Linked DNA regions of Homo sapiens. The protein of the gene in region 1 purifies or fractionates together with the protein of each later gene. This does not show direct contact. Each region holds a gene or a part of one and is shown in the gene's direction. Other genes may lie near its edges. The genes, in order: DNMT1, EHMT2, MTA1 and CHD4.

The links.
Region 2: the proteins of DNMT1 (region 1) and EHMT2 purify together in Homo sapiens (affinity purification with western blotting; 3 studies listed by BioGRID, with this or other methods). This does not show direct contact.
Region 3: the proteins of DNMT1 (region 1) and MTA1 purify together in Homo sapiens (affinity purification with western blotting; 4 studies listed by BioGRID and IntAct, with this or other methods). This does not show direct contact.
Region 4: the proteins of DNMT1 (region 1) and CHD4 purify together in Homo sapiens (affinity purification with western blotting; 2 studies listed by BioGRID, with this or other methods). This does not show direct contact.

Annotation. Positions count from the first base shown.
Region 1 is NC_000019.10:10,184,935-10,191,953, reverse strand, and holds part of DNMT1 (DNA (cytosine-5)-methyltransferase 1), read left to right. Parts: intron 1-7,019. UniProt on the Homo sapiens protein: Methylates CpG residues. Preferentially methylates hemimethylated DNA. Associates with DNA replication sites in S phase maintaining the methylation pattern in the newly synthesized strand, that is essential for epigenetic inheritance.
Region 2 is NC_000006.12:31,880,693-31,887,711, reverse strand, and holds part of EHMT2 (histone-lysine N-methyltransferase EHMT2), read left to right. Parts: intron 1-52; coding exon 53-135; intron 136-610; coding exon 611-717; intron 718-814; coding exon 815-937; intron 938-1,029; coding exon 1,030-1,131; intron 1,132-2,656; coding exon of another isoform or gene 2,657-2,695; coding exon 2,696-2,800; coding exon of another isoform or gene 2,801-2,821; intron 2,822-2,912; coding exon 2,913-3,067; intron 3,068-3,152; coding exon 3,153-3,320; intron 3,321-3,507; exon of another isoform or gene 3,508-3,761; coding exon 3,762-3,906; exon of another isoform or gene 3,907-4,272; coding exon 4,273-4,350; exon of another isoform or gene 4,351-4,702; coding exon 4,703-4,818; exon of another isoform or gene 4,819-4,926; coding exon 4,927-5,013; exon of another isoform or gene 5,014-5,039; intron 5,040-6,151; exon of another isoform or gene 6,152-6,316; intron 6,317-6,590; exon of another isoform or gene 6,591-6,619; coding exon 6,620-6,698; intron 6,699-6,863; coding exon 6,864-7,019. UniProt on the Homo sapiens protein: Histone methyltransferase that specifically mono- and dimethylates 'Lys-9' of histone H3 (H3K9me1 and H3K9me2, respectively) in euchromatin.
Region 3 is NC_000014.9:105,415,023-105,422,845, forward strand, and holds the start of MTA1 (metastasis-associated protein MTA1), read left to right. Parts: upstream 1-4,804; 5' UTR 4,805-5,013; coding exon 5,014-5,041; intron 5,042-6,925; exon of another isoform or gene 6,926-6,940; coding exon of another isoform or gene 6,941-7,136; intron 7,137-7,823. UniProt on the Homo sapiens protein: Transcriptional coregulator which can act as both a transcriptional corepressor and coactivator. Acts as a component of the histone deacetylase NuRD complex which participates in the remodeling of chromatin.
Region 4 is NC_000012.12:6,590,373-6,597,391, reverse strand, and holds part of CHD4 (chromodomain-helicase-DNA-binding protein 4), read left to right. Parts: intron 1-1,254; coding exon 1,255-1,386; intron 1,387-1,961; coding exon 1,962-2,058; intron 2,059-2,741; coding exon 2,742-2,933; intron 2,934-3,775; coding exon 3,776-3,976; intron 3,977-4,163; coding exon 4,164-4,301; intron 4,302-4,574; coding exon 4,575-4,696; intron 4,697-4,825; coding exon 4,826-4,999; intron 5,000-5,334; coding exon 5,335-5,476; intron 5,477-5,566; coding exon 5,567-5,698; intron 5,699-5,808; coding exon 5,809-5,926; intron 5,927-7,019. UniProt on the Homo sapiens protein: ATP-dependent chromatin-remodeling factor that binds and distorts nucleosomal DNA. Acts as a component of the histone deacetylase NuRD complex which participates in the remodeling of chromatin.

The DNA of each region.
Region 1 (7,019 bases):
GCTACTCGGGAGGCTGAGGCAGGATAATCGCTTGAACCCAGGAGCCGAGATTGCACCGTTGCACTCCAGCCTGGGCAACAGGAGCGAAACTCTGTCTCAGAAAAAAAAAAAATTTTTTTTTTTAGAGATGAGGGTCTTGCTTTGTTGCCCAGGCTGGTCTTGAACTCCTGGACTGAAGCAATCCTCTGCGTTGGCCTCCCAAAGGGCTGAGATTACAGGCGTGAGCCACAGGGCCCGGCCATTATTCCTCAAGAGTTCTTAAAAGTGGATGCTGCAGGAGTTAACTGCCAGGAAGCAGGAATTCCTGCTAAGGTCTGCTGCTTGCCAAAGCCTTTCCCTTCAACAGGGGTTGCCAGTAGGCCACTGGCTCAGGGGCTCTGTTGGCCCTGTGCAAATATTTTGTTTGGCTGAATTGGAATACCATTAGGTGAGCCTTACAATCCACCACTGACCCTGGGTTCCACATTTCTTTACACTCAGATTGCTTCACTGTAGGCATTGGAGTTTTGGAGGACTGCTTTTGACCATGTGGTAGACATTGAAATTGTAGTTTATATGACTCACTCCACAGACTTTTTTTTTTTTTTTTACATTTTGAAAATATTTCATTAAATGAAAAATAAACATGGTATCCAACAGTACTTGAAACTTAGATTTTTTTTTTTTTTTAATTGAGGCAGGGTCTTGCTCTGTGGCCCAGGCTAGAGTGCAATGGTGTGATCTCAGCTCACTGCAGCCTCCGCTTCCCGGGTTTAAGCAATTCTCCTGTCTCAGCTTCCCAAGTAGCTGGGATTACAGGTGTGCACCACCACGCCCAGCTAATTTTTCTTTTTCCCCCTCGAGGCTGAGCCTTGCTCTGTCGCCCAGGCTGGAGTGCAGTGGCCGTGATCTCGGCTCACTGCAACCTCCACCTCCCGAGTTCAAGCAATTCTCCTACTTCAGTGTCCCAAGTAGCTGGGATTACAGGCGCCCGCCACCAAGCCCAGGTAATTTTTGTATTTTTATTAGAGACTGGGTTTTGCCATGTTGACCAGGCTGGTTTCAAACTCTTGATCTCAAGTGATCCACTTATCTTAGCCTCCCAAAATGCTGGGATTACAGGTATGATGGTGTCCAGCCGGTTCATTGTTTTTATTTTATTTTATTTTATTTTATTTTATTTTATTTTATTTTATTTTATTTTATTTTTGAGACAGAGTCTTGTGCTGTCGCCCAGGCTGGAGTGCAGTGGTGCGAACTTGGCTCACTGCAACCTCCCCCTCCCGGGTTCAAGTGATTCTCCTGCCTTAGCCTCCTGAGTAGCTGGGATTACAGGCATGTGCCACCACGCCCGGCTAACTTTTTCTTATTTTTAGTAGAAACCGGGGTTTACCGTGTTGGCCAGGCTGGTGTTGAACTCCTGGACTCAAGTGATTCGCCTGCCTCAGCCCCGCAAAGTGTTGGGATTACAGGCATGAGCCACCGTGCCTGGCCTTTTAATTCATTCTTAAGCCTGCTCTCAGACAGCTAGGCTTGCTTCTCCACAATAAAGAGTGTTGAATTTTGTCGGTGTATCCCGCATGGTGCCATTATAACACTGAAATTAGTGATTATTTCAGGGTCTGTTACCAGAGCGTGTCTGCCGTATTCACTGTATCTGCAGCTTGGAGCACAGTAGACTCAAATGCTTGCATGCCAGCTCTTCCCCTGTACAGCCTGGATTAACACTGATGCTAGCAGACTCCTTTGCACAACTGATTAGCTTTCGTAACTACCACAGCTTTCTTACTGCTAGTCATTCTGTGATGGGATTAAGCTAGGTCTTGAACTCCTTAACTCCAGTTCCTTGGCTACTACTGAGTACATACTGAATAAGGCAAAATTGACTTACCTCTTTTGTTTTGCTCCCCTGTGGTAGAATTCTAGGGGTACAGACTGCTGGGTTTCAAATGCCGCCCTACTTGCCAGCCGTATGGCTAAGTTATTGAACTTCTTGGTGCCTTGGTGTTTCATCTATAAAAAGGGGGTGGGGCTGCCTGCTCGACAGGGGTGTTAGGAAGACTGAGCTTATCAGTACAGATATGTTGAGAGCAGCACCTGTCCAAAGCCCTTCATCACTGGTTATTACGTGGTACTGTGTGTACAGTGGGGATGCTGTGGGTTTGGTTCCAGACCACTGCAGTAAAGTGAATCTAGCAAGAAAGTGAGTCACACACACATTTTGGTTTCCTAGTATGTGTAAAAGTTATTAGACTAGGCCGTGTGCAGTGGCTCATGCCTGTAATCCCAGCAGTTTGGGAGGCCAAGGCAGGAGGATCGCTTGAGCCAAGGAGTTCAAGACTAGTCTGGGCAACATAGGAAGACCCCCCCCATCTCAAAAAAAAAAATAAAGCCAAAAGTGGTGGCATGCACCTGGGGTCCCAGCTACTCGGGAGGCAGAGGTGGGAGGATCACTTGAACCCATGAGGTCGAGGCTGCAGTTTGCCATGATTGTGCCACTGCACTCCAGCCTGGGTGAAGGAGTGAGACTCTGTCTCAAAAAAAAAAAAAAATCAGCTGGGCGTGGTGGCTCACGCCTGTAATCCCAGCACTTTGGGAGGCCAAGGTGGGCAGATCACGAGGTCAGGAGATCGAGACCATCCTGGCTAACACGGTGAAACCCCGTCTCTACTAAAAATACAAAAAAAATTAGCCAGGCATGGTGGCACACGCCTATAGTCCCAGCTCCATGGGAGGCTGAGGCAGGAAAATTGCTTGAACTTGGGAGGCGGAGGTTGCAGTGAGCCGAGATCATGCCACTGAACTCCAGCCTGGGCAACAGAGCGAGACTCCGTCTCAAAAAAAAAAAAAAAATCATCTGAGTCTTCAGCGATTCATAATCTTTTTGCAGGTGGAGGGTCTTGCCTCAAACTTGCCGGCTTAAAGGACATACATTTATTACCTTATGCAGGTCAGAAATCTGATGTGGGTTTCACCGGATGAAAATCAAGGTGTAAGCAGGCTGCATTCCTTTCTGGGGGCTCCAGGGGAGAATCTGTTTCCTATTTTGGGGTGTTGGCAGAAGGTGGTAGTTGTAAGACTCAGGTCCCATTTTCTTCACTGGTTCTAAACTGAGGGTCGTTGCCCGCTTCTGGAGGCGGTCTCATCCCTCGGCTCATGCCCCCTTCCTCTACCTTTAAAGTCAGCATTTGCGGGTTGCATCTCTCTCTGACCCGTCCTCCAACGTTGCCCGCTCTCTGCAGCTAGAAAGGTTCTGTGTTCTTAAGGGCTGAAGTGATTAGATTGGGCCCACCCCAGATAATCCAGGATAATCTCCCCATCTCAAGGTCTGTATTCTTAGTTACATCTGCAAAATCGCTTTGGCCACGTAAAGTAATATATTCACAGGTTCCAGGGATTAGGGCATGAACATTTTTCGGTGGGTCCACTCTTTTTGAGATGGAGTCTCGCTCTGTCACCCAGGCTGGAGTGCAGTGGCATGATCTCGGCTCACTGCAACTTCTGCTTCCTGGGTTCAAATGATTCTTGTGCCTCAGCCTCTTGAGTAGCTGGGATTACAGGCGTGAGCCACCAAGCCCGGTTAATTTTTGTATTTTTAGTAGAGATGGGGTTTTGCCATGTTTCCCAGGCTGGTCTTGAACTCCTGAGCTCAGGTGATCTACCCGCTTCAGCCTCCCAAAGTGCTGGGATTACAGGCATGAGCCACTGTGCCCAGTGGGTCTACTCTTTTGCCTACTGCGGATGCCTTCTTGGGCAGCCCTGCTCCAGCTGCCATGCAGCCGGCCTGAAGAAGCTGGTTTGACAGAGACTTGTAACTTGTCTTGCATGGTCCACTATATTTTATTTTTAGAGACAAGGTCTTGCTGTGTCACCCAGGCTGGAATGCAGCGGCACAATTATAGCTCACTGGGCTCTAGTGATCCTCCTGCCTCAGTCTCCTGAGTAGCTAGGACCACAGGTGCATGCTGCCACACCAAGCTAATTACTATTTTTTGTTTAGGCAGGGTCTCTGCTGTGTTGCCCAGGCTGGTCTTGAATTCCTGAGCTCTATTGATCCTCCCGCTTTGGCTTCCCGAGTAGCTAGGCCTATAGGCACATGCTAGCACACCCAGCTAATTACTAATTACTATTTTTTGTAGAGACAGGGTCTCGCTGTGTTGCTCAGGCTGGTCTTGAATTCCTGGGCTCTAGTGATCCTCCCGCCTCAGCCTCCTGAGTAGCTAAGACTATAGGTGCATGCCACCACACCCAGCTAATTACTATTTTTTGTAGAGACAGGTTCTCGCTGTGTTGCCCAGGCTGGTCTCAAATTCCTGGGCTCTAGTGATCCTTCCGCCTCGGCCTCCTGAGCAGCTAGGAGTACAGGTGCGTGCTGTCATACCCAGCTAATTACTGTTTTCTCGTAGAGACAGGGTCTCACTGTATTGCCCAGGCTGGTCACAAATTCCTGAGCTCTAGTGATCCTCCCGCCTCTGCCTCCCGAGTAGCTAAGACTATAGGTGCATGCTACCACAGCCAGCTAATTATTCTTTCTTGTAGAGACAGGGTCTCGCTCTGTTGCCCAGGCTAGTCTCGAATTCCTGGGCTCAAGTGATCTTCCTGTCCTGGCTTCCCGAGTGTAGAGATTACAGGCATGAGCCACTGCGCCCAGCCATGGTCTGCTGTATTTCAGACGAGCATTTCTGGCGTAGAGGTGTTAGAGTAATCTAACATTTTATAATTTCTTCCTATCCAATCTATACTAGATACCTCTGCTGGGTTAGTTTTCTTAACACGGCTCTGATGTCATTGGTTCTACTTCCCCTTGACTGCTTTGGTGTTTGTTAACTATGGAACAAGATGGATAAGTGTGATGCTTTTGCCCTCCCTCCGACTGTCCCCAGCCACCTCTCTGGAGGTGCCTTTCCCTCCCTGTATGTGGCCAGTCTCACGTTTGTTTCTTGTGTGTTTCCAGAACCAGCCACTTCTCAATGGTGCCCCTGTTTGAGCAGCTTCCTGTGCCCGGTTCACACAGAGCTGTCAACTTCTTCCTGAGGCTGTTATACCCTTTCTCTTGGGAATCCCGCAGGCGTGAGCTGTATTTGCCTTATTCCTCTGTGGTTGTTTATATATATCTTTTTTTTTTTTTTTTTTTTTGAGACGGAGTTTCACTCTTGTTGTCCAGGCTGGAGTGCAATGACGTGACCTTGGCTCACCGCAGCCTCCACCTCCCGGGTTCAAGCGATTCTCCTGCCTCAGCCTCCTGAGTAGCTGGGATTATAGGCATGTGCCACCATGCCTGGCTGATTCTGGATTTTTAGTAAAGACGAAGTTTCTTCATGTTGGTCAGGCTGGTCTCGAACTCCTGACCTCAGGTGATCCGCCCGCCTCGGCCTCCCAAAGTGCTGGGATTACAGGCATGAGCCACCGTGCCTGGCCAGCTGTTTATATATATCTTATCTCCCCTCTGCAGAGGGTTCATCTCTGAGGGAAGCACTAGGAAGGAATCATAGGGTCTCAGGCTGGGCACTAAGCCGGCATTCTGAGTCCTCTGCTCCGTCCTTCACGGCTGTCTGCGACCCTCCTGGCTTCAGCAGGTGTGATCGGTGTCATCACAGTTTTACCAGGGAAGGGATGTCGCTAAAGTTACCCTCCCGCCAGCTCCTCACTGCCTGCCTGGGATCCCACCTGCCACTCTGGGGCCAGGCAGGTTAAATCCAGTTTCTACTGGATGAAACATTCTAGGGGTTTTGAAGGTTTCTCTATTCTCTTTGCCAGGCTAAATATCCCAGTTCATATGAGGGGTTGAAAGAAAGCAGACCCATTCTGCAAGGACACCTTGGTCTCCGCAATCAGTTGAACCTTGTCCTTCACACCCCAGGCAACCTCGGGATCAGGGGACTGGCTGGCTTGGTCGAGGTAGAAGCCATGTCCTTCCAGTTTTCTCAGCGGCGTGACTGAGAAGTCAAGTGTAACGCTATTACCACAGCGTGTGTGCCTCTGGCTGGAAGTACCAGTTTCTGTAGCCCTCCTGACTTAAGGCTCTCCTTGGACCCCAGTTGCTACAAGGGTAGAATGACTTTTGCCTGGAAGAGGTTCCTTGTGCTCCTGGAAATCCTGATGTCAAAGCATCTTTTTTTTTTTTTTTTTTTCTTTTGAGACAGGGTCTTGTTCTGTTGCCCAGGCTGAACAGGCTGGATTGCAGTGGTACCATCATAACTCACTGCAGCCTCAACCTCCCAGGCTCAAGCGATCCTCCCACCTCAGCCTCCCAAGTAGCTGGTACCACAGGTGCACACTAACCACACCCAGCTAATTTTTACATTTTTTTTGTAGAGATGGGATCTCTCAGTGTAGCCCAGGCTGGTCTCAAACTCCTGACCTCAAGTGATCCTCCTGCCTTGGCCTCCCAAGGTGCTGGGATTACAGGCATGAGCCACTGCGTCTTGCCTGGCCTTGTAGCACCTTGAGTCCAAGTGATACAGTATATATAATATACAGTCTATATTACCACTGTGTTTGTAGGGTGCTAAGTGTCTCTTCTACAGAGCAGTCTTTTTTTTTTTTTTTTGAGACAGAGTTTTGCTCTGTTGCCCAGGCTGGAGTGCAGTGGCATGATCTTGGCTCACTGCAAGCTTCACCTCCCGGGTTCACGCCATTCTTCTGCCTCAGCCTCCTGAGTAGCTGGGACTACAGGCGCCCACCACCACGCCTGGCTAATTTTTTGTATTTTTAGTAGAGGCGGGGTTTCACTGTGTTAGCCAGGATGGTCTCCATCTCCTGACCTCATGATCCGCCCACCTCAGCCTTCCAAAGTGCTGGGATTACAGGCGTGAGCCACCGTGCCCGGCCCTACAGAATGGTCTTTCCTAACCACACAGCAAGTCAGGAAGTCCCTGCCTAGTGACACCTACATCTAATCACTTAGCTCTTTGCCTGGAGCAGGGCCTGGCATTCAGCAGGTGCTCATATGTGAGCGGCGCTGGTGGGGAATCAGGGCCCGCATGACCCAGAGCAGCTGTTGTAAGACATGGGTCCAGCAAAGCATTCCTCATGCTGCT
Region 2 (7,019 bases), on another chromosome or scaffold:
CTGGAATCTGAGGAGCTCCCCTTCTCTCCCCGCTCCCGTGCTCCCTTGGCAGGCGGAAGAAGCTCCGTTTCCACCCTCGGCAGTTGTACCTGTCCGTGAAGCAGGGCGAGCTGCAGAAGGTGATCCTGATGCTGTGTGAGTGCCACCCATTCCTTCAGCAGACCTTGACCAAGCTTCATGTATATACCAGGCACTGGGTACAGGGCCAGGAGTACAGTCGTGAAGGACACAGTCCTTGCCCTGAAGGACTTAGTGTGGTGGGGAAAAGACACATGTAACCCATAACGATGGGGATGTGGTGACTCATAGGTGCTGGGTCCTGTTCTGAGTGCTTATACCTGTTAGCCTTGGCTTGCACAGAGAGGTTAGGGACCTTGCACAGTGCACAGTGGTACTGAGAAGCAAGGCAGGGTTTGAATTCAGGCAGAGCTGATGCCTTTGACTCCTTATTCTGATAAATGCTGTGGTGGAGGCAAGCTCGGAGAATGCCAGGAGGGGCCCTGATCCAGCTTGGGGCCCTGAGAAGCCTTCCTGAAAGAAGTGCCACCTGCCCCCTAGCTTGCTTACCACTTGTCCCTCCCTCTCCCGGTGTGGCGGGCTCTCCCCGCAGTGGACAACCTGGACCCCAACTTCCAGAGCGACCAGCAGAGCAAGCGCACGCCCCTGCATGCAGCCGCCCAGAAGGGCTCCGTGGAGATCTGCCATGTGCTGCTGCAGGTCAGCACGGGCCCGGCCCCATGCCTCATTCACCAGGCCCTTAGGCCCCTCCCCTGCCCCATGCCTCCCTGGTGCCAGCCCTCCTGCCCCCTCACAGGCTGGAGCCAACATAAATGCAGTGGACAAACAGCAGCGGACGCCACTGATGGAGGCCGTGGTGAACAACCACCTGGAGGTAGCCCGTTACATGGTGCAGCGTGGTGGCTGTGTCTATAGCAAGGTGTGCGCGCAGGCAGCAGGGCGTGGCCCCCGGAGTCAGGGACCAGGTTTGGGGTGCCAGCCCAAAGGCTCATTTGCCCGTGTCTCCCTCAGGAGGAGGACGGTTCCACCTGCCTCCACCACGCAGCCAAAATCGGGAACTTGGAGATGGTCAGCCTGCTGCTGAGCACAGGACAGGTGGACGTCAACGCCCAGGTCAGCGGCCCACCCAGCCCAGCCCCTCTGGGTCCCTGGTGCCTGGGTTCCTTGGCTTGGCCTCAGGCTTTGGGCCGCCTTTCCTACATCTGACCTCACACTGCTCGTGTCTGTCCTCATTGCTTTCTTCTTCCTCATTTGTATTTCTCTTCATTCTTTTCTTTCTCGTTTCTTTCTCTTTATCAAGTTTCAGAATAATCAGTTCCTGTCTTAATCTCTGAAAGTGTCCAGTGAGGCTTTTTATTAACTCTTGGGTTGTCATACATTGGATGTGTTTTAGTCATTTATTGGCATTCTTCTCAGTCTTTGAATTATTCCATCATTGTCCAGAAGAAGCCCCTTTAAGAGGCCTCTGTGGCTGTGACATGACCCAGTGGCCCAGTGGCCTTTGAGAGCCTCCTGACCTTTCAGCACATTTCCTGCCCCCAACTCAGAATCCACCATTTCTCTAAGAAACTCTGCTTCCTTTATGGGAAACTTTTTTTTTTTTTTTTGAGACGGAGTCTCACTCTGTTGCCCAGGCTGGAGTGCAATGGCGTGATCACAGCTTACTGCAAGCTCCGCCTCCCAGGTTCACGCCATTCTCCTGCCTCAGCCTCCCGAGTAGCTGGGATTACAGGCGCCCACCACCATGCCCGGCTAATTTTTGTATTTTTAGTAGAGACGGGGTTTCACCATATTGGCCAGGCTGATCTTGAACTCCTGACCTCGTGAGCCACAGCGCCCGGCCAGAAGCATTTTTTAGAGAATACAATCTATGTTCCTAGGAGTGTTTATTGTTATTGGGTTGTCGCTGCTTCTAGGACTTTTGAGTGGGCAGACTTAGGAAATTTTTGTTCGTTTTTTCTTTTAAGAGACAGGGTCTTGCTATGTCACCCAGGCTGAAGTACAGTAGCAGTTCACAGACAGTCATAGCTCTCTGCAGCCTCGAAATCCTGGGCTCAAGCAACCCTCCCATCTCAGTCACATGAGTAGCTGGGACTACAGGCATGCACCTCCATGACCAGCTCCTGGCTGTATTTTTTGGAAAGAGAACAATTACTTTATTTTCTCTCTGGCATCAGATGGTAGACGCTACTAGTCCCATTTTTGTTTGTTTGTTTTTTGAGACGGAGTCTTGCTCTGTCGCCCAGGCTGGAGTGCAGTGGCACGATCTTGGCTCACTGCAAGCTCCGCCTCCCGGGTTCACGCCATTCTGCCTCAGCCTCCCTAGTAGCTGGGACTACAGGCGCCTGCCACCACGCCCAGCTAATTTTTTCTATTTTTTAGTAGAGACAGGGTTTCACCGTGTTGGCCACAATGGCCTCCATCTCCTGACCTCGTGATCCGCCCGCCTCGGCCTCCCAAAGTGCTGGGATTACAGGCATGAGCCACCGCGCCCGACCCTACTAGTCCCATTTTTTAGATGAAGAAACTGCGACCCAGAGACGTTAAGTGACTTACCCAGGGTCCCACAGCTTGTGAATGGTGGAGCTGGGATTCACACACACAGCCAATCTTGACCATTTGCTGCTTTGGTGAGCAGGGCCAGCTGCCCCCACCCTCACTCCCTTCCCACCCACAGGACAGTGGGGGGTGGACGCCCATCATCTGGGCTGCAGAGCACAAGCACATCGAGGTGATCCGCATGCTACTGACGCGGGGCGCCGACGTCACCCTCACTGACAACGTGAGTGAGCGTTTGGTTGAGGTAGGGCAGCCCCAGGCCCCTGAGCAAGGTGGAGGCTGGATTCAAGGGCCCAGCTGCCTGCACCTCATCTGTTCCCCTCCTACCTCCACAGGAGGAGAACATCTGCCTGCACTGGGCCTCCTTCACGGGCAGCGCCGCCATCGCCGAAGTCCTTCTGAATGCGCGCTGTGACCTCCATGCTGTCAACTACCATGGGGACACCCCCCTGCACATCGCAGCTCGGGAGAGCTACCATGACTGCGTGCTGTGAGCCCCTGCCCCGCCCTTGATGCCCCTGCCCCCACTTCTTGCAGCCTCAGACCCTGCATTGGGCATCCTGTCCCCTCTTCAGGTTATTCCTGTCACGTGGGGCCAACCCTGAGCTGCGGAACAAAGAGGGGGACACAGCATGGGACCTGACTCCCGAGCGCTCCGACGTGTGGTTTGCGCTTCAACTCAACCGCAAGCTCCGACTTGGGGTGGGAAATCGGGCCATCCGCACAGAGAAGATCATCTGCCGGTGAGCCCTGGGCCCCTCTCTGCACCCAAGACCACCTCCTCCCCACCCATACCCTCCCCAGGCTCCATTGCATCCTCACAACATTCCCCAACCCCTCCCCATGCACCACTGAATCCCCAGAACCACCCACAGGCCCCCTCCCCACTAGGGTTGCCAGATACAGCAAATAAAAATAGAAGACACCCAGTTAAACTGGAATTTCAGATGCACAGATGCATACTTTTTTAGTGTGAGAATGTCCTGTGTAATTTTTGGGACATACTAAAAAGCTATTTCTTGTTTATCTAAAATTCTATGTTAACTCGCTGTCCTGCATCTTACCTGGCAACCTTACTCCCCTGCCCCCAGCCCCAGGAACCTCCCCAACTCTCTTCCTTATACCTGGAGTAGCTCCTCACCCCCTTTTCCAGCTTCCCAGCCCCTTCTTCCCGTCTTCTGCAGGGACGTGGCTCGGGGCTATGAGAACGTGCCCATTCCCTGTGTCAACGGTGTGGATGGGGAGCCCTGCCCTGAGGATTACAAGTACATCTCAGAGAACTGCGAGACGTCCACCATGAACATCGATCGCAACATCACCCACCTGCAGGTGAGTAGGGGGCCCGGGGCCTCCCCAAAAGGACACCGAGAGCTGCCAAGTACAGTTGGACAAGCTTCAAACCAGCAAAGGCACCTGGCCAAGGAAGGGTTGGCTGAAAGGGAGCCCTGGTGTGGGGTCGCATCCCCACCAGGGGAGGGATCCTTTTCCTAGGTCACAGCAAGGTATCATATGAGCTCCCAGTAGCCCTGGGGACACCACCATACTGATTACCCGTCACCCTAGGACCATCACCACCCACTGTTGTAACACATGGACCCCAAAGAAAGGACAGTGGTTAGGGGGTCAGGGGGCATCAAGAGTAGAGGGGCCCAGACCGATCATGGGGTTGAGCTGACCTCTGCCTCCTCGCCCCAGCACTGCACGTGTGTGGACGACTGCTCTAGCTCCAACTGCCTGTGCGGCCAGCTCAGCATCCGGTGCTGGTATGACAAGGTGCGTGCCCCTTGCCTTGGCCACAGACACCCGGCCCCTCCTTCAGAGGAGCCAGCCTCCAATAAACCAGCTCCCTGGGACCATGTCCCTCACCTCCTACCCTGTGGGGGAAGTGACTGAGAGGACTGGGCAAGGCCTGGGAATCCTGGGATGTGGCTGGGACAGCGATGGGCGTGTGCCCAGGTCTATGCAAACCAGGGATGATGCTCCTGCATTTCGTGCTCTCGGATCTCAGAGCCTGTGTGACCTCCCCAACCCCAACTTCCCTGTCTCTGTAGAGTCTTGGGGTTCCTGGGTGGGCAGCTGAGGTGGGCCCCACAGAGAAACCACTATCCTCCCCTCCGCACCCTAGGATGGGCGATTGCTCCAGGAATTTAACAAGATTGAGCCTCCGCTGATTTTCGAGTGTAACCAGGCGTGCTCATGCTGGAGAAACTGCAAGAACCGGGTCGTACAGAGTGGCATCAAGTGAGGCCCTGCTCCACAGCCCACCCTCTCCCCACCTCACCCTTTCCTCCCTGCCCCTGGGGCTTTTCCAGGGCCTCCACCCAACAGCGCCATCTCTCCTACCCCCAGGGTGCGGCTACAGCTCTACCGAACAGCCAAGATGGGCTGGGGGGTCCGCGCCCTGCAGACCATCCCACAGGGGACCTTCATCTGCGAGTAAGTCACCGGGAGCACCTTAACACCTGGTGGGAAGGGGATACATGGCCACTGCTGACTGCCAGGCCTCCCTCTCAGCCATCTGCCCTGATGAGTCACATGTCTCCATCTGGCCACTCTCCAGCCAGCCTCCTCTGACCCCTATTCCTGCAGCTGAGCAGCCAGCCGCCTCTGACCCCCATCCCCCCAGCTGAGAATGGCACCTGCCTCCACTCTGCCCAGACCACAGAGCTTGTCTTCCCTCCCCTCCACCTCCACCCTCTACCTTCCCCTCCACCCCCTCCTCGCCCTTCCTAGCTGGAGAAAGTGCCAGTTTGGGAGACAAACAGACTTGGGTTTGAGCCCCTCTCTGCTTCTGGATGTTCTTGGCCAAGTTACTTAACCTCTTTGAGCCTTATTTTTCTTGTCTGTAGAGTGGAGGTGATAACAGCTACCTATCTGTCCACCTCCTCAGGGGCCTGTCCCTCTCCATCAGTTCTTTCTCTGCCCAGCATCTGTAATCTCCCCCTTTCTCTTGGCTGCCATCCCACAACCCTCAATCTTACTTTAGTCTCCTTTGGCTCTTTTTTTTTTTTTTTTTTAATTTATTTTTTGAGACGGAGTTTCACTCTTGTTGCCCAAGCTGGAGTGCAATGGCACAATCTTGGCTCACTGCAGTCTCCACCTCCCAGGTTCAAGCGATTCTCCTGCCTCAGCCTCCCAAGTAGCTGGGATTACAGGTGCGCACCACCACACCCGGCTAATTTTTTGTATTTTTAGTAGAAACGGAGTTTCACCATGTTAGCCAGGCTGGTCTCCAACTCCTGACCTCAGATGATCCGCCCACCTCGGCCTCCCAAAGTGCTGGGATTACAGGCGTGAGCCACCGTGCCTGACCATTCTTTGGCCTTTAAAAAAGATAGTCCTCTAACCATACTTGCCTGTTCAACAGACCATCCAGTTTCTTTCCATCATGTCATCTCTCAACTTCTCTGGCAAGCAGCCCCTTCCTGCTGGGCCTCAGTTTCCCCACCATCCACTCACTGCCTGTCCCTGCCAAAATCGGCCTTTGCCCTTCCCACTCTGCTGAAGCTGTCTCTTGACAGTCACTTCCCACCCACGTCCTCTCCGTGTGTCTGAATCTCCCATGTCTGCTCACCCTCCTTAGATAGCTGGCTCCTCTCCTCCCTCTGGTGTCCAGATATGTGTGGGTGCTCTTGCCCCGAATCATGCCTTGAGTTCCTTGCCACTCCTGTACCTCTGGCTCTTCCTGCAGTCCTGGCCCCTCTCCTGTTCCATATCGCCCATTCCTGCCGGGTGGCTCCTGGAACACAAACCTCTCTGTGTCCAAACCCGAACTTCCCCACCCAGGCCAACTGCCCCTACACATTAATCCCCTTAACCACAGAGCTTGTTGTCTGTCTCTGTGCTGACTGAAGGCTTCCTCTGTCAAGGCTGGAATGCTGCCCTTTCACTTGCCCACCACTGCTGCTCCAGGCCTTCCCTTCCCCACACCTGCCAGCCCTGCCCATTCCAGATTCCACAGGCTTGTGAAGAGAGATGGGGCCTGGAGCCACCTCCTAATAGCCCACACTCACCTTCAGAACCATGGATTCCTGTCCCACAGGTATGTCGGGGAGCTGATCTCTGATGCTGAGGCTGATGTGAGAGAGGATGATTCTTACCTCTTCGACTTAGACAACAAGGTGAGCAGGAGACCCTCCTTACCCTGCTGCTCCCCAGGGCTGGCTTTCAGGAGCCTCTGGGAAGTCAGCAAATGGAAACCTGGGGAGGAGGGACTGGGGAGTCAGTGGGTGGGGAGGGCAAGCAGGGTCGGGGGAGATGTGAAGAGTGCCATCCCCCTGCCCCAGGATGGAGAGGTGTACTGCATAGATGCCCGTTACTATGGCAACATCAGCCGCTTCATCAACCACCTGTGTGACCCCAACATCATTCCCGTCCGGGTCTTCATGCTGCACCAAGACCTGCGATTTCCACGCATCGCCTTCTTCAGTTCCCGAGACATC
Region 3 (7,823 bases), on another chromosome or scaffold:
CCACTGCGCCTCCCCACCCGCAGGCCTCCGCAGCGCCACGGGCGGCCGCGCGGGGTAGCGTTTGGGGGCTCCCGGGGACGCGGTCTCCGGCGCGCAGGTCCGCCCAGGGTTGGCCGCGTGGTCCCCCGGGCTTCCCACGCCCGATTCGAATTGTGACTCCGGCTGGCTCCGGACCGAGCCGAGGACGCTCCGGCACCACAGCAGGAGCCGCGCGGGCGGGGGCGCGGGGCGCGGAACGGGGCGCGGGGCGCCTGGGAGATGTAGTTCGCGGCCTTCCCCGGCGCACCAGACAATGCCCGACGCGGCCCCGCTGGAGAAACGCCTTCCTTGGCTTTGCAGAAACACCGCTTGCTATTAATACAGCAACGAATACAGCTTTAAAAACGCGCCCAGTGTCCTCCCTGGAATAACAGCTGTTAACATTACCTAAAGGTTATCCCAGATATTTCTAAATGTATATGGGGAGATAAAAGGATGTAATGGAAATACAGAAATACGTGTCGAGTTGCTACTTATAGACTTTTAAATATTTAAAGAAAAAAATTGCTAAAAGCAGATGAATGCTTCTTCACCTCAAGTTTAAAAGTCTCCTTACGATGGCCGGGCGCCGTGGCTCAGGCCTGTAATCCCGGCACTTTGGGAAGCCAAGGCAGGCAGATCGCTTGAGCTCAGGAGTTGGAGAACAGCCTGGGCAACAAAGGGAAGCTCCATCCATACTGAAGATACAAAAATCAGCCGGGCGTGGTGGTGCTCTCCTGTAGTCCCAGCTACTTGGGAGGCTGAGGTGGGAGGATCGCTTGAGCTCAGGAAGTCGAGGCTGCAGTGAGCCGAGATAGGCCCACTGCACTTGAGCCTGGGTGACAGAGTGAGACCCTGTCTCCAAAAAAAAAAAAAAAAAAGTCTTCTACGATTATTTTTAGAAATTACAAAAACATCAAGAGATGAGTGTGTTTGGTTTACAGCAGCAAAGCACGGTTCGGCTGAGGCGGCACCGGCTGACTTCTGCCTGTGAATGGTGAGGAACTGGCACTGACATTTCCATATCCCCTGGCAGGGCATTTCTTACCAGAAGATCAAGGCTCACCGCCAGTATTTGACCCACTGAAAGTCTTTGTTTTGATTTACATCTTTACTGGCTGGACTTAAGATCAGTTTTTGTTGTTGTTGTTAGACAGGGTCTTGCTCTGCCACCCACGCCGCAGTGCAGAGGTGCTATCTCGGCTCACTGCGAACTATGCCTCTCAGGCCTAAGCTATCCTCCTGCCTCAGCCTCTCAAGTAGCAGGGACTACAGGCATGCACCACCACGCCCCGCTAATTTTTATATTTTTCAGTAGAGATGGGTTTTCACTATGTTGCCCAGGCTGGTCTCAAACTCCTGGGTTCAAGTGACCTGCCCAAAGTGCTGGAACTTCAGAGCCAGAGCCCTGGTTTTATACACTTTATTATGTTCCCCTCCCTGCTAGATTGCAAACCCTCTGAGGGCAAAGGTGCTGTTTCCTTACCCTCCAAGGCCTAGAGTGGCCTGTAGCTTGAAGTAGATGTTTAACAAATAATCAATGAGTAAATTATTGTGTTAATCACTTTGTCTTGCTCTGAAATTATCTCAAGCCTTTCATCTCCAAGTAACTTGATATTCTGCCCTTTGCTGTTTATGACTTGATCCAGCCACGGTGCGATTTTGGTGCTTCCGGTTTGCTTGGCTCTTAACTCTTCCTCCCATCCTGCTGTTTTGTCGTCAAGCATTTGAATTCCTGATTGTTGAATTCATGCTGCTATGAAGCTCTGAAAGAAGTCCTGTGGAGTCCTCTTCTGTTTCTTTGGTTGCGTTTTCTTATTTATTTATTTATTTATTTATTTATTTTTTATTTTTGTTTCTTTGAGACGGAGTCTCACTGTGCCGCCCCCAGGCTGGAGTGCAGTGGTGTGGTCTCGGCTCCTGGGTTCATGCAATTCTCCTGCCTCAGCCTCCGGAGTAGCTGGGACTACAGGCACGCGCTACCACACCCAGTTAATTTTTTTGTATTTTTAGTAGAGATGAGGTTTCACTATGTTGACCAGGCTGGTCTCGAACTCCTGACCTCAGGTGATCCTCCTGCCTTGGCCTCCCAAAGTGCTGGGATTACAGGCGTGAGCCACCACGCTCAGCCCAGTTGTGTTTTCTTCCATACTGGGTTTCTCACCGGCCCCTCACACCCTCGATGACTTGTTTTTCTGTTGTTGAATGACATGGATGTGGTCACGTGCCACCTCTCAGCAATGCTCCCACCTCAGCCTCCGGGGATATGCCACTACTTCTGTAGTGCTTTCTGACGTGAAAGCTCTTTCCTGAATGTCTATTCGCTCTGCTACTAAGTGGATGGAGTGGATGGATTTTTTTTTTTTTTTTTTTTTTGGAGACGGAGTCTCGCTCTGTCGCCCAGGCTGGAGTGCAGTGGCATGATCTCGGCTCACTGCAAGCTCCGCTTCCTGGGTTCACGCCATTCTTCTGCCTCAGCCTCCGGAGTAGCTGGGACTACAGGCGCCCGCCACCACGCCCAGCTAATTTTTTCTATTTTTAGTAGAGACGGGGTTTCACCGTGTTAGCCAGGATGGTCTCGACCTCCTGCTCGTGATCCTCCCGCCTCAGCCTCCCAAAGTGCTGGGATTACAGGCGTGAGCCACCGCACCCAGCTGGATTCTTCTTAATTCTTTGTTTTTATTGTTTGACTCACCTGAGGTCTTTGGACTTTGCCTCTGAGCTGGCTTAAGGGCAATCCACCTTGTTCACTGGTCTGGAGTGGGGAGGCAGAGTATGGGTCGGCTGGAGGAGTGGGGCTCTGTGCTCTCTTTTGAGAGTTTACTAAACGTCACTCTGCATGGTGAGGGGTGTGTCCTCTCCGCTGGGGAGGCCTGGCTTGAATTTCAGATTGCCTCCCTGGGACACCAGACCCTGTGCTGTGCTCCCTCAGAAGGACAGCCTTGACTGTCTCCACTCCAGCAGTCAGTTCTCTCCACTCCCACTGGGAGAAGGAGCAAAGGCTGGTGTCTTCAGGAGGCTCCTCTCCAGGCTGGGGCCAGGGAAGAGTGTGCATGTCACTGTCAGGATGTGTCCCAGTGGTGTGGCTGGGTTCTCAGGGTGAAGCTCGTCCATTTCTGGGATGGCAGCGGAAGCAGGCACTACACACGCAGCTTCAGGGGGCTCTCCCCATGCTTCCTAGCTGCCTGGCACTTTCTGGTGTTTCTGGCTAACTTTCTGGCCATGCCAGGAGTTGGTGGAAGGAGATCTCAGGCTGCAGCTTTGCTTTCCTGCTGAGGAGACAGAGGTAGGCTGGGGCTGTAGGACAGGGGAGGCCAGCAGCCCCACCTTCCTTCTGGAGAGACGCTGCCTGTCTGTCATTGCCCCTCTCCTGCACCTGGCCGCTGGCTGGCTGCTCTTCCCTCCCAATCACCAGCAAGCCAGCTCCTGTTCCCTGCAGCCCAGCCCGCAGGATGTGTCCTGGGACCCATAGCCCTCTCTCCCCAGAGACAGCACCGCCCTGCAGCTCGGGTTCCTGGCCCTGTGCTAACCCTGGTGGGGCTTTCCTTACTGGTCTGCTCTGCAGCCATGACATTGTGGCCACCGCTCTCCTTGGGACCCCCACCTGGCTTTCCTCCCAGCACATGCTGTTTCCTACCCACCTGGATGGTGTCCTGTGTGCTGGATTCCCCATGCTGTGTCCCCAGCATCCTGACCATGTCTGTCCCGCCTGCCTAGATCTTGCACCGTGGCCACGGGGCTCCCTCCTGATAGCCCTGAACGCTCCGCTCCATGTCCTACAGAGAGGGATGTCCCAAGTAGATGTCAGCTCCCTCCAGCATCTGAGCAGGCAGGACAGAGACCCACGGTGCTGCTCACATCAGCAGCCTGGAACCCCGAGACAGCTCCTTTTGCTCACCTCCCCCAACACTGATGTTGCACCTGTCTCCAAGCCACTCTGGGACCATCTGTTTCTCTCCATCTGGGAAGCCCCCTTCGCACCTCATGCTCTTCCTGGCTGGGGCGTCTGGGTCACTCACTGGACTCTCCTCTCCTTAGACCTGTGCACAAGCACACACGGGAAGGCATCCTGACAGGTGGTGGGAAGAGAAGGCAGCTGCCTCACTGCGGAAAGAGCACGGCCGCTCCTGGACTCCAGCCCTGTTGGGGCTGGCGGGGTCAGCAGGCGCTGGGTTCCAGCCTCAGGTGGGGTCTTTGGAGGTGGCCTCTGGGCACAGGCACCTCCTCTGCGGCCTTCTCACCAGGTCACGGTTCAGGGAGGCTTTGCCGGCTACGGAGCCTGCCCACACCAAGGCGCGCACGACCACCTGTCCAGAGATGCCACGCGGGCTGGGCGGCGAAGGCCAAGGACACGCCCTGCCTGGTGTCGGGGGCAAAGGTTAGGCCTGGAAGGGAGGTGTGGGGTGGGGACCCCGAGGCCAGGGCTGGGCCGCTGAGCTTCAGGGCCCTTGGGGGGCTCAGGGAGGAATGCCGGAGGACCCCAGCATCAGGAGGAACCCCTGGAGAGCTACGGCAGGACTCACCTGTGGGGCACAGGGAGGGATCACCAGGGAAATGGCCCTTGTGGAGGATCTCCCCTCTACCCCCAGGGCACCAGGGGAGGATCTACCAGGGGGTTCTGGTGGAAGGGCCCACCCGGGAAGCGGCGCGCGGGGAGGACTCGGGGGCGCCGAGAGGAACTGTCCGGGAAGGGGCGCGCGGGCCGCGGGCGGCGCGGGGTCGGTAACGGCCCGTGCGGTGGGCGGCGGCGCCCGAGGCCCCTCCCCGCCGCCCGCGGCCGCTCCTCCTCTTCCTCTCCCGCCCGCGCCGCGGCCCTCCCGTCCCTGCGCGGCCTCGGCGGCCTCGGCGGCGGCGGCGGCGGCGGCGGCGGCAGCAGCGCGGCCCCTTTAAACGCCTGCGGCGCCCCCCGCCCCCGCCATCGCGCCTCCATTTTCCCGGCCGCCCGCGCCGAGCGCCGCGCCCGCCCCGGGCCCCTCCGCCGCCGCCGGCCCGGACATGGCCGCCAACATGTACAGGGTCGGAGGTAAGGCCGCACCGCCTTTATGCCCGGCCCCGACCCGCCCGCAGCCCCCACCCGCCGCCGCTGCCGCCTCCCCCGCCCCTCTGCCCCGCAGGCCCCGCGCCCCCCGCCCGCCCTCGCGGCCCCCGGCTCCTTCCCGAACCGCCCCCCGCCGTGCTCACCCCAACCCAAAATGGCCCCGCGGGTCGGCCCCATCGGGGGCGGGCGGGGCTCGGCGGCCCGGGGGTGGGGGGCGGCCCACCTGTTGGGGCCGAGGGGGCGGCCGCGGGGGTGGCGGGGGGGCGCGGGGCCTGCGGGACATCCGGGGGTCCGGGGCCGGGAGCCCCCAGCGGGAGCACGTGGCCTTGGGAGGCGCCGGCTGCCGGTCTGGGAGCAGGAGTTTTGGGGCTGTGGGGTCTCCCCCGGCCCGCGGCCCTGTGCTGGGACTCCGGTGCATCCCCTCTGGGGATGGGGAGCCCCGGTGAGGGGCCACGTTCCTCCCTAGAGCCCTCCTGCAGCCTGGCCCCGGGGCTTCCCCCAGCAGGGATCCCTCAGGGGGTCTTCAGCAGGGAGCGAGCATCCCGAGCACGCCTCTAAGTCCCCCCAAACTTTTCCCTGCCTCTCGCTCACCTCAGCCCATTCGGGAGGCGCTTTGCAAGGGTTGGGGAGAGGCCGGAGGGCCTCCTGGGCAGGGGCTTCCTCCGTGGGCCCAGCCTCCTGTTGCTCGGGCCCCCCGGGCCTGCAGCTTTGAGCCTTGCCCTCCTTCGTGTGCCTGGGACTCCGTGGGGTCTTTCACAGGAAGGTGGGGGGTCGTGTGCATTCCATCATTCCATCAGCGCCTCCCTCCCCAGGACTCTGAGACCCCTCCCTGCCTGTGACCCTCTCGGGCAGGTGCTCATTACCTTTCCCACCTGCAGCCTGCGCTGCTGGAGGGAGCTGGGGTCACTCCCGCTCTGGCTTGATCCCCATGCCCCTGACCCCGAGTGCCCAGAACACTCTGTGTCTCTCGAGCGTGGCTTCTGCTGCCTTGGACGCCGTGTGGTCTGGCCGGCCAGTCCTGTGACCTTGGGGACGGTGGGAGCCCCCTACATCCCGTCTGTGAGATGGGCGGTCAGTCCGCATCAGCAGCTCTGGGCCTCCCCTGTCCTCTCAGAGGGGCGGTGGGCCTGTACCCCATCCAGCGGCAGCCCCTCCCACAGCCTCATACAGCTTTGCCAGGTCCCTGTGTGGACCCAGGTGCGCTGAGCCCACCCCACGCTCAGGGAGCAGCCTGGGTGCGGGGTCCCTCGAGGGAGGGGCCTGTTCCTTCCTGTTCTTTCTCCCCACCTGGAGACCCCCCTTCCAGCCTGACATGAGGGCCCAGTTTCTCACCCTGGCAGAGAGGATGCCTGCTGCCTGGGCTCCAGCCGGGCCCACTGCGCATGGTTTTGGGATTGGTCCCAAGAAGAGCTCTCCCTGCCCCCACCCATGTTGGGGGTGGGGAGTGGTGGCAGCTTTGGGCTCTAGGGCTGGGGACACCCCGACCCCAACTCATGCCTTCCTAGTGGCTGCATTGCTCGGCCTTCAGGCCTGCCTGCCTGTGATCTTGGCGCCAGCCTGGCTGCCCCCCCTCCAACCTTCCCATGCCTCGGTTTCCCCATGGTGTGGGTGAGGACCTCGTCTCTCAGCCGTCCTTTTGTGCCCTGTGGCAGCTGTGCTGTGGCTGATGAAAGCCAGGACCCTGCCTTGTCCCATCCCGGAGGTGCAGCTCCCCTGGGCCCCACACAGGCTTGGGAGGAGCCCTTCGTGGGGCTGCGCCGCCCTCCCCGAACCCTCTGTCCCCCTGTGCCCGCAGGCCCGTCCCAGGGCCTCACTGACCCACGCACTCCAGTGCTGTGAGGGTGGGTGGCCTGGACTCCTAGGCTGTGGCGGAGGGGCCCCACCATGCCTGGCAGAGATGCTGCTGGTCTCTTTTCCTGTGATGAGGAGCATGGGAGGTTGGGTGCTGTCTGCTGGCAGCACAGCCACGCGTGGGATCCAGACTGCTTCTGCGTGTGCAGTCCGTGGTCACTGTGGCCGGGTGTGCTCGGAGCTGTCAGGCCCCCCACGTGCCCGCCCCGAGGACTTCCTCTCCCTGCAGGTGAGACTGTAGGCCTCCCCCTCTCTACTCTGACTGTCCCTATAGGAGAAGCGGCATTTATCCCTGGCTTCTGGACCGGAACCCTGGGTTCCGGCAGGACCCCGGCAGAGCCCTGTGGTCGCAGTGGGCTGGGCATTGCAGGTTGGCTTCCTGTCTTGGTGCTCGCTCGGGGAGGTGGGCGTCTGGATTCTTGAGCCCCCAGACAAGAAAGAGGAAGGTGTGCAGTGTCTCCTGAGCAGCCTTTGTCCGTCTGTCGCCGGCTGCCTGGCACGGGCTCCATCTGGGTGGCCAGTCCTGGCCTGTGGGAGATGCCGGCAGGGACCCAGCCTGGGAAGGGGCTTGCTCCTGTGCCCCCCCACCCCAGGGACCTTGTGTGTAGAGGCACCAAATTTAGTTAAGAAAAGTACAGGACGCCCAGGCAAATTTGAGTTTCAGATAAACAGAAATTTATTAGTGTAAGTATGTCCCAAATATGGCATGGGACATACTTGTCCCAGAAGATTCTTATCTGACATTCACAGTTATCTGGGCAACCCGTATTTTAGCTGGCAGGCTACTCCGAGGCCCTGCCAGGTTGGGCTAGGCAGGGTGAAGGTGTGGTGGCAGTATTTTTGTGCCAGCTGAGCTGGGTGAAGTGGTGAGCAGGGAGGGAACAGGGCCTGTTTCTTCCCCATGGAGTGCCCTGGC
Region 4 (7,019 bases), on another chromosome or scaffold:
TGGGCTCAAGCAATCTGTCTGCTTCAGCTTCCCAAAGTGTTAGGATTACAGGCGTGAGCTACTGCGCCTGACACTTCATGTTATTATCTTTATTTATTTATTTTATTATTATTGTTTTTTTTTGAGACAGACTTGTCACCCAGGCTGGAGTGCAGTGGCGTGATCTTGGCTCACTGCAAGCTCTGCCTCCTGGGTTCACGCCATTTTCCTGCCTCAGCCTCCCGAGTAGCTGGGACTACAGGCCATCGCCACCATGCCTGGCTAATTTTTTTTTTTTTGTATTTTTAGTAGAGACGGGATTTCACTGTGTTAGCCAGGATGGTCTTGATCGCCTGACCTTGTGATCCGCTCACCTCCTCCTTCCAAAGTGCTGGGATTACAGGCGTGAGCCGCCGCACTCGGCCTATTTATTTATTTATTTATTATATTTTTTGAGACAGAGTCTTGCTCTGTGGCCCAGCCTGGAGTGCAGTGGTATGATCTAAGCTCACTGCAACCTCCGCCTCTCAGGCTCAAGTGATTCTCTGCCTCAGCCTCCAGAGTAGCTGGGATTACAGGCGTGTGCCACCACGCCTGCCTAATTTTTTTTTTTGAAATGGAGTCTCGTTCTGTCGCCCAGGCTGGAGTGCAGTGGCGCAATCTCAGCTTGCTGCAACCTCCGCCGCCCGGGTTCAAGCAATTCTCCTGCTTCAGCTTCCCGAGTAGCTGGGATTACAGGCACCTGCCACCATGCCCGGCTAATTTTTGCATTTTTAGTAGAGACGGGGTTTCTCCATGCTGGCCAGACTGGTCTTGAACTCCCGACCTCAGGTGATCCGCCTGCCTTGGCCTCCCAAAGTGCTGGGATTATAGGCGTGAGCCACCGCGCCCGGCCTGATGCCTGGCTAATTTTTTTTTTTTTTTTTAGTAGAGACGGGTTTCGCCATGTTGGCCTGGCTGGTCTTGAGCTCCTGGCCTCAAGCGATCTGCCTGCCTCAGCTTCCCAAAGTGCTGGGATTACAGGCGTGAGCCACTGCACCCGGCCAACACTCTATGTTAATTATTAACTGACTGAATTCTGGTGTTTGAGCTCTAGGAAAGTATAAATTAGAGATAATTTTTGGTCAGAGACTGGTACAGTAGAGGCTCTGAAAACGTGTGATCTGTGGCATACCTAGAGGTCTGGTGTGAAACAAACGGTATTGCCAGTTTTTGAGAGGAAGTGAGGAGGGTTGCCTTTTCTGGCTCTGAGGGTTTTCTCTCCTGGACTTGCAGTGTGGACAAGAAGGGCCACGTCCACTACTTGATCAAGTGGCGGGACTTACCTTACGATCAGGCTTCTTGGGAGAGTGAGGATGTGGAGATCCAGGATTACGACCTGTTCAAGCAGAGCTATTGGAATCACAGGTGAGTGATTTTGGGTGAGGCATAGAGTTGTTTCTTTTTTTTTTTTTTTGAGATGGAGTCTTGCTCTGTCACCAAGCTGTAGTGCAGTGGCGTGATCTTGACTCACTGCAACCTCCGACTTCCTGGTTCAAACGATTCTCCTGCCTTAGCCTCCTGAGTAGCTGGGATTATTTGCATACGCCACCACACCTAGCTGATTTTTTTTTTTTTTTTTTTTGAGACGAAGTCTTGCTCTTGTCCCCCAGGCTGGAGTGCAATGGTGCGATCTTGGCTCGCTGCAGCCTCCGCCTCCTGGGTTCAAGCAATTCTCCTGCCTCAGTCTCCCGAGTAGCTGAGATTACAGGCGTCTGCCACCATGCCCAGCTAATTTTTGTATTTTTAGTAGAGACGGGGTTTCACCATGTTGACCAGGCTGGTCTCGATCTCCTGACCTCAGGTGATCCGCCCGTCTCAGCCTCCCAAAGTGCTGGCCTCCCAAAATGCTGGGATTACAGGTGTGAGCCACTGTGCCTGGCCAAGTTGTTTCTTCTATAGAAAAGGATTTTGGGCAGCTGTGTGATGTCTTTCTTCTTTAGGGAGTTAATGAGGGGTGAGGAAGGCCGACCAGGCAAGAAGCTCAAGAAGGTGAAGCTTCGGAAGTTGGAGAGGCCTCCAGAAACGCCAACAGTTGATGTGAGTGGGGGTGGAAGGGACTGTAGTTTGTTGGGTAGGACAATGTATCTTTGCTGCAGTCTAATGATGGTACTCTTAAGTAATGAAATGCAGATAGTAACTTTGTAGCTGAGATTACTTCACAAAGTCGGCTTCCCCACTTCTCCACATCTCTATATATCAGAAAGCACTAGGATTACTTTCTTCTTTTGTCATCAGAAAAAAAAAAAGGAGGTATATTTTGAATGATTGAAGAAGTGTTGTCTGGGGGGAGGGGCCACATAGCCTAGCTTTTATGCACTTACATAGGAATCTGGCTTAATTCAGGCTCAGTTCCTCTGGGTTTTGTTTGTACAGTGTAATTTGAGGGTGATTAAAGTTAAAAAGATGAATCTAAGAGGGACATAACGATTATTTACCTGGTGGATCCTGACTAGTAGAATTATTGTATTGGTAGGGAGTCTGTGACGTGCTTTTCCTCAGTGATCTGTAGGATCAAAATCAGGTCTGGTTAAGCCCTGTTTCCTGGAGGACCCTAAACTGAACATGAAATTGCAGTAATCATAGGGGATCTCTTCCCTCCGAATTTTCCGGAGCTCTTCCCCAAGAGGATCCGTGAAGACTAGTGAGGAGGAAGCAGCTGCTCTATTAGGGGAGGAGGGGAGTTCCTTGCCAGCTCTTGACTTCTCTGTTTCATCCTTCAGCCAACAGTGAAGTATGAGCGACAGCCAGAGTACCTGGATGCTACAGGTGGAACCCTGCACCCCTATCAAATGGAGGGCCTGAATTGGTTGCGCTTCTCCTGGGCTCAGGGCACTGACACCATCTTGGCTGATGAGATGGGCCTTGGGAAAACTGTACAGACAGCAGTCTTCCTGTATTCCCTTTACAAGGAGGTAAGGAAATCTGGGGTGGATAGTTTTTTGTGTGGGTGTTTTGTGTTTGAAGCCTTAACTTACACTGAGTAGAGAGATAAGGGAATAAAAAAATTGGTCTCTGACCTTCAAGAACACTGTGGATAATAGATAAACACATGTACACATGTGTTTAGTAGATAGTAGATAAATGTGATAGTGGATAAACACATGTACACAGCGGAAGATTTGAGGGCATGGAGCCCTGGGTAGGATTAGCAGTGGATCCATAGAGTATCAGTTCTAGGGGAATGATTGTGTGTTGAGGGAAGTAGAATTATGAGTAGAATTAGTATGGAAAGGCTTGGCTGGACGCAGTGGCTCATACCTGTAATCCCAGCACTTTGGAAGCCCGAGGTTGGTGGATCACCTGAGGTCAGGAGTTCGAGACCAGCCTGACCAACATGGCGAAACCCCGTCTCTACTAAAAATACAAAATTAGCCGGATGTGGTGGTGCACGCCTGTAATCCCAGCTACTTGGGAGGCTGAGGCAGGAGAATCGCTTGAACCCGGGAGGTGGAGGTTGCAGTGAGCTGAGATTGCGCCATTGCACTCCAGCCTGGGCAACAAGAGTGAAACTCCGTCTCAGAAAAAAAGTATATAAAGACTTAATGGGAGAGGTAAGACTTGTAGTTATGGTGGGACCTTGGGTTTTTGGAAAGGAGTGGGCTGGGCACTTGTATAGAGGAAGGTGAGAGCAGGAGCAGCAGCGCAGGTGTGTCAGTCCTTGGCTCAGCTTGAGGGGGCAGCAGGGTGGTGGGTGTTCGCTGGGGTTGCAGTGTGCTGGGGCCCTCAGTCCTGACTCTCCTCTTTTTTCTCAAAGGGTCATTCCAAAGGCCCCTTCCTAGTGAGCGCCCCTCTTTCTACCATCATCAACTGGGAGCGGGAGTTTGAAATGTGGGCTCCAGACATGTATGTCGTAACCTATGTGGGTGACAAGGACAGCCGTGCCATCATCCGAGAGAATGAGTTCTCCTTTGAAGACAATGCCATTCGTGGTGGCAAGAAGGCCTCCCGCATGAAGGTATCTCAGGGGAGGGAAGCCACCCTAGAGAAAGAGTTGTGGCTTCTGGCTTAGTTTACCTCCTTGTGATCTGGTCCCTGGTGAGGCAAAAGGGTAACCCTGGGAGGAGGAAAACATTCCATCAGTCTCCTGGTTGTGCTTACACAGAGGAACTGACTAGTAGTGACCAAGTTGCCTTCATGTGCAGAAAGAGGCATCTGTGAAATTCCATGTGCTGCTGACATCCTATGAATTGATCACCATTGACATGGCTATTTTGGGCTCTATTGATTGGGCCTGCCTCATCGTGGATGAAGCCCATCGGCTGAAGAACAATCAGTCTAAGGTGAGGGCTGAGGGAGGGATGTTGGAGCCCCCACTTTGGGTTTTTTCTAGTACTACCAATTCATTAAGGGGAAAACTTGTAGATGGAGAGGAGAGGGGAAAATTGTCTCTGCCTTCCTTCCTTGTATGTGACAGCCCTTGGTGGCCAGGCCTTTAAAAAGAATGTGAGGAGTGGGATGCTTAACTATTGGGCAGTGAAAAACTTGAAATTTTGTAGAGATTTGCTAGAGCTCTGTTTTCATTGGATTTCACCTTTCTCCATCTGCTTCACCAGTTCTTCCGGGTATTGAATGGTTACTCACTCCAGCACAAGCTGTTGCTGACTGGGACACCATTACAAAACAATCTGGAAGAGTTGTTTCATCTGCTCAACTTTCTCACCCCCGAGAGGTTCCAGTAAGTATGTGTTTATCTGTAATCGGCTCATAATTGTGCCTCTCATTCTTCCTGTTGCCCATTTCCTGTATCACTTTTCTTTCTTCCTTTCTCCTTCTCCAATAACTTTTTTCCTTTTTCTTTCTGAAGCAATTTGGAAGGTTTTTTGGAGGAGTTTGCTGACATTGCCAAGGAGGACCAGATAAAAAAACTGCATGACATGCTGGGGCCGCACATGTTGCGGCGGCTCAAAGCCGATGTGTTCAAGAACATGCCCTCCAAGACAGAACTAATTGTGCGTGTGGAGCTGAGCCCTATGCAGAAGTGAGTTGGGAGGGACAGAAGCAGACTCCATTTAGACATCTGCCAGTCTGCAGAGTGTTTCCTATTCCTCCCCCACTCAGCTTCAAGGCATCTGGTGACAGGAGCAAGCAAGGCCTGAAGAAACCTGATGCTAGGGCGCTGGAGCGCATAGTTCTTACTTATTTTAGGTTATACCTTTCCTTATTTAAAATGGTGGTGGTGGTAGTGCTTGTGCGTTAGGTGTCCTTAGTTCCAAAGTGGGATGTGTTGGAAGAAAGATCTCAGTTGTTGGCACTGCATTATTAGTCATTGAAAGGCTCTCAAGTCTAACCTGTCTTTCTACCTTGCCCATGTAGGAAATACTACAAGTACATCCTCACTCGAAATTTTGAAGCACTCAATGCCCGAGGTGGTGGCAACCAGGTGTCTCTGCTGAATGTGGTGATGGATCTTAAGAAGTGCTGCAACCATCCATACCTCTTCCCTGTGGCTGCAATGGTATGTAGTGCCATCTCCTGTTCCTCCCTGGGTTGGGTCTTCTCCATGTGGGCTTTCTTTTAATACTTTTTTCTTTGCATTTGTTCTCAGGAAGCTCCTAAGATGCCTAATGGCATGTATGATGGCAGTGCCCTAATCAGAGCATCTGGGAAATTATTGCTGCTGCAGAAAATGCTCAAGAACCTTAAGGAGGGTGGGCATCGTGTACTCATCTTTTCCCAGGTATCATGTGGACTGGGAGCTTTAGGGAACAGTCATAGACAACCCTTAGTGACCTAAGGAAAGGGATTACCATCTGACTCTTCCATAATTAAACCGTGCTTCTTTTGCAGATGACCAAGATGCTAGACCTGCTAGAGGATTTCTTGGAACATGAAGGTTATAAATACGAACGCATCGATGGTGGAATCACTGGGAACATGCGGCAAGAGGCCATTGACCGCTTCAATGGTGAGAGAGAAGGAGTTGTTTAGTTTCAGGAATCCTCATTTGCTTATATCTTTGGACTGTAACTTCTTGTGCATCTCCTTTTCTGTGTAGTTCTTTTGGGACTTTGTCATTTGAGATGGAGTAAAGCTTTTGAATGTCTCAATTGGACGAATGTATTGGACTATTCCTAGGAGATTTTTTCTTTTGGGGTATTTGTTCTTTCTGCTAGAAAGAAGAAAGCATTGTATCTCGAGGGCAAGCAAAGGGTCAGGACTTGTTCAAGCTCAAATAGCAAGTTACTAGCAGACTTGTCTGCCTCAGTAGACGCTACTAGGTTTTTTTTTTTTTTTTTTTTTTTTTTTTTGAGATGGAGTCTTGCTCTGTCGCCCAGGCTGGAGTGCAGCGGCACGATCTTGGCTCACTGCAACCTCCGCCTCCCGGGTTCAAGCAGTTCTCCTGCCTCAGCCTCCCAAGTAGCTGGGACAACAGGCGTGTGCCACCACGCCCAGCTAATTTTTGTATTTTTAGTAGAGATGTGGTTTCACCATGTTGGCCAAGATGGTCTCGATCTCCTGACCTCATGATCCGCCCACCTCGGCCTCCCAAAGTGCTGGGATTACAGGCACGAGCCACCACGCCCAGCCTGTTTTGTTTTGTTTATTCGAGATAGGGTCTCACTCTGTTGCCGAGGCTGGAGAGCAGTGGCACAATCATGGCTTACTACAGCCTGGACACACCCCCAGGCTCAAGTGATCCTGCTGCTTCAGCCTCCCAACTAGCTGGGGCTGTAGGCTTGATCCACTGTACCTAGCTAACTAAAAAAATTTTTTTGTAGAGATGGGGTCTTGCCATGTTGCCCAGGCTGATCACAAAGTTCTGGGCTCAAGCAATCCTCCTGCCTTGGCCTCCCAAAGTATTGAGATTATAGGCATAAGCCACTGTGCTCAGTATCACTACTCCTTGTTTAAAAAAAAAAAACTTTTTATTTTAATTTTAGACTTAGAAAAAAGTTGCAAAACAGCAGAGAGAGTTCATGTATACTGTTCAACTAGCTAGCTTCTCTTAATAATAACTTACGTAACTGCAGTACAATGATCAAAACTAGAAAATTAAC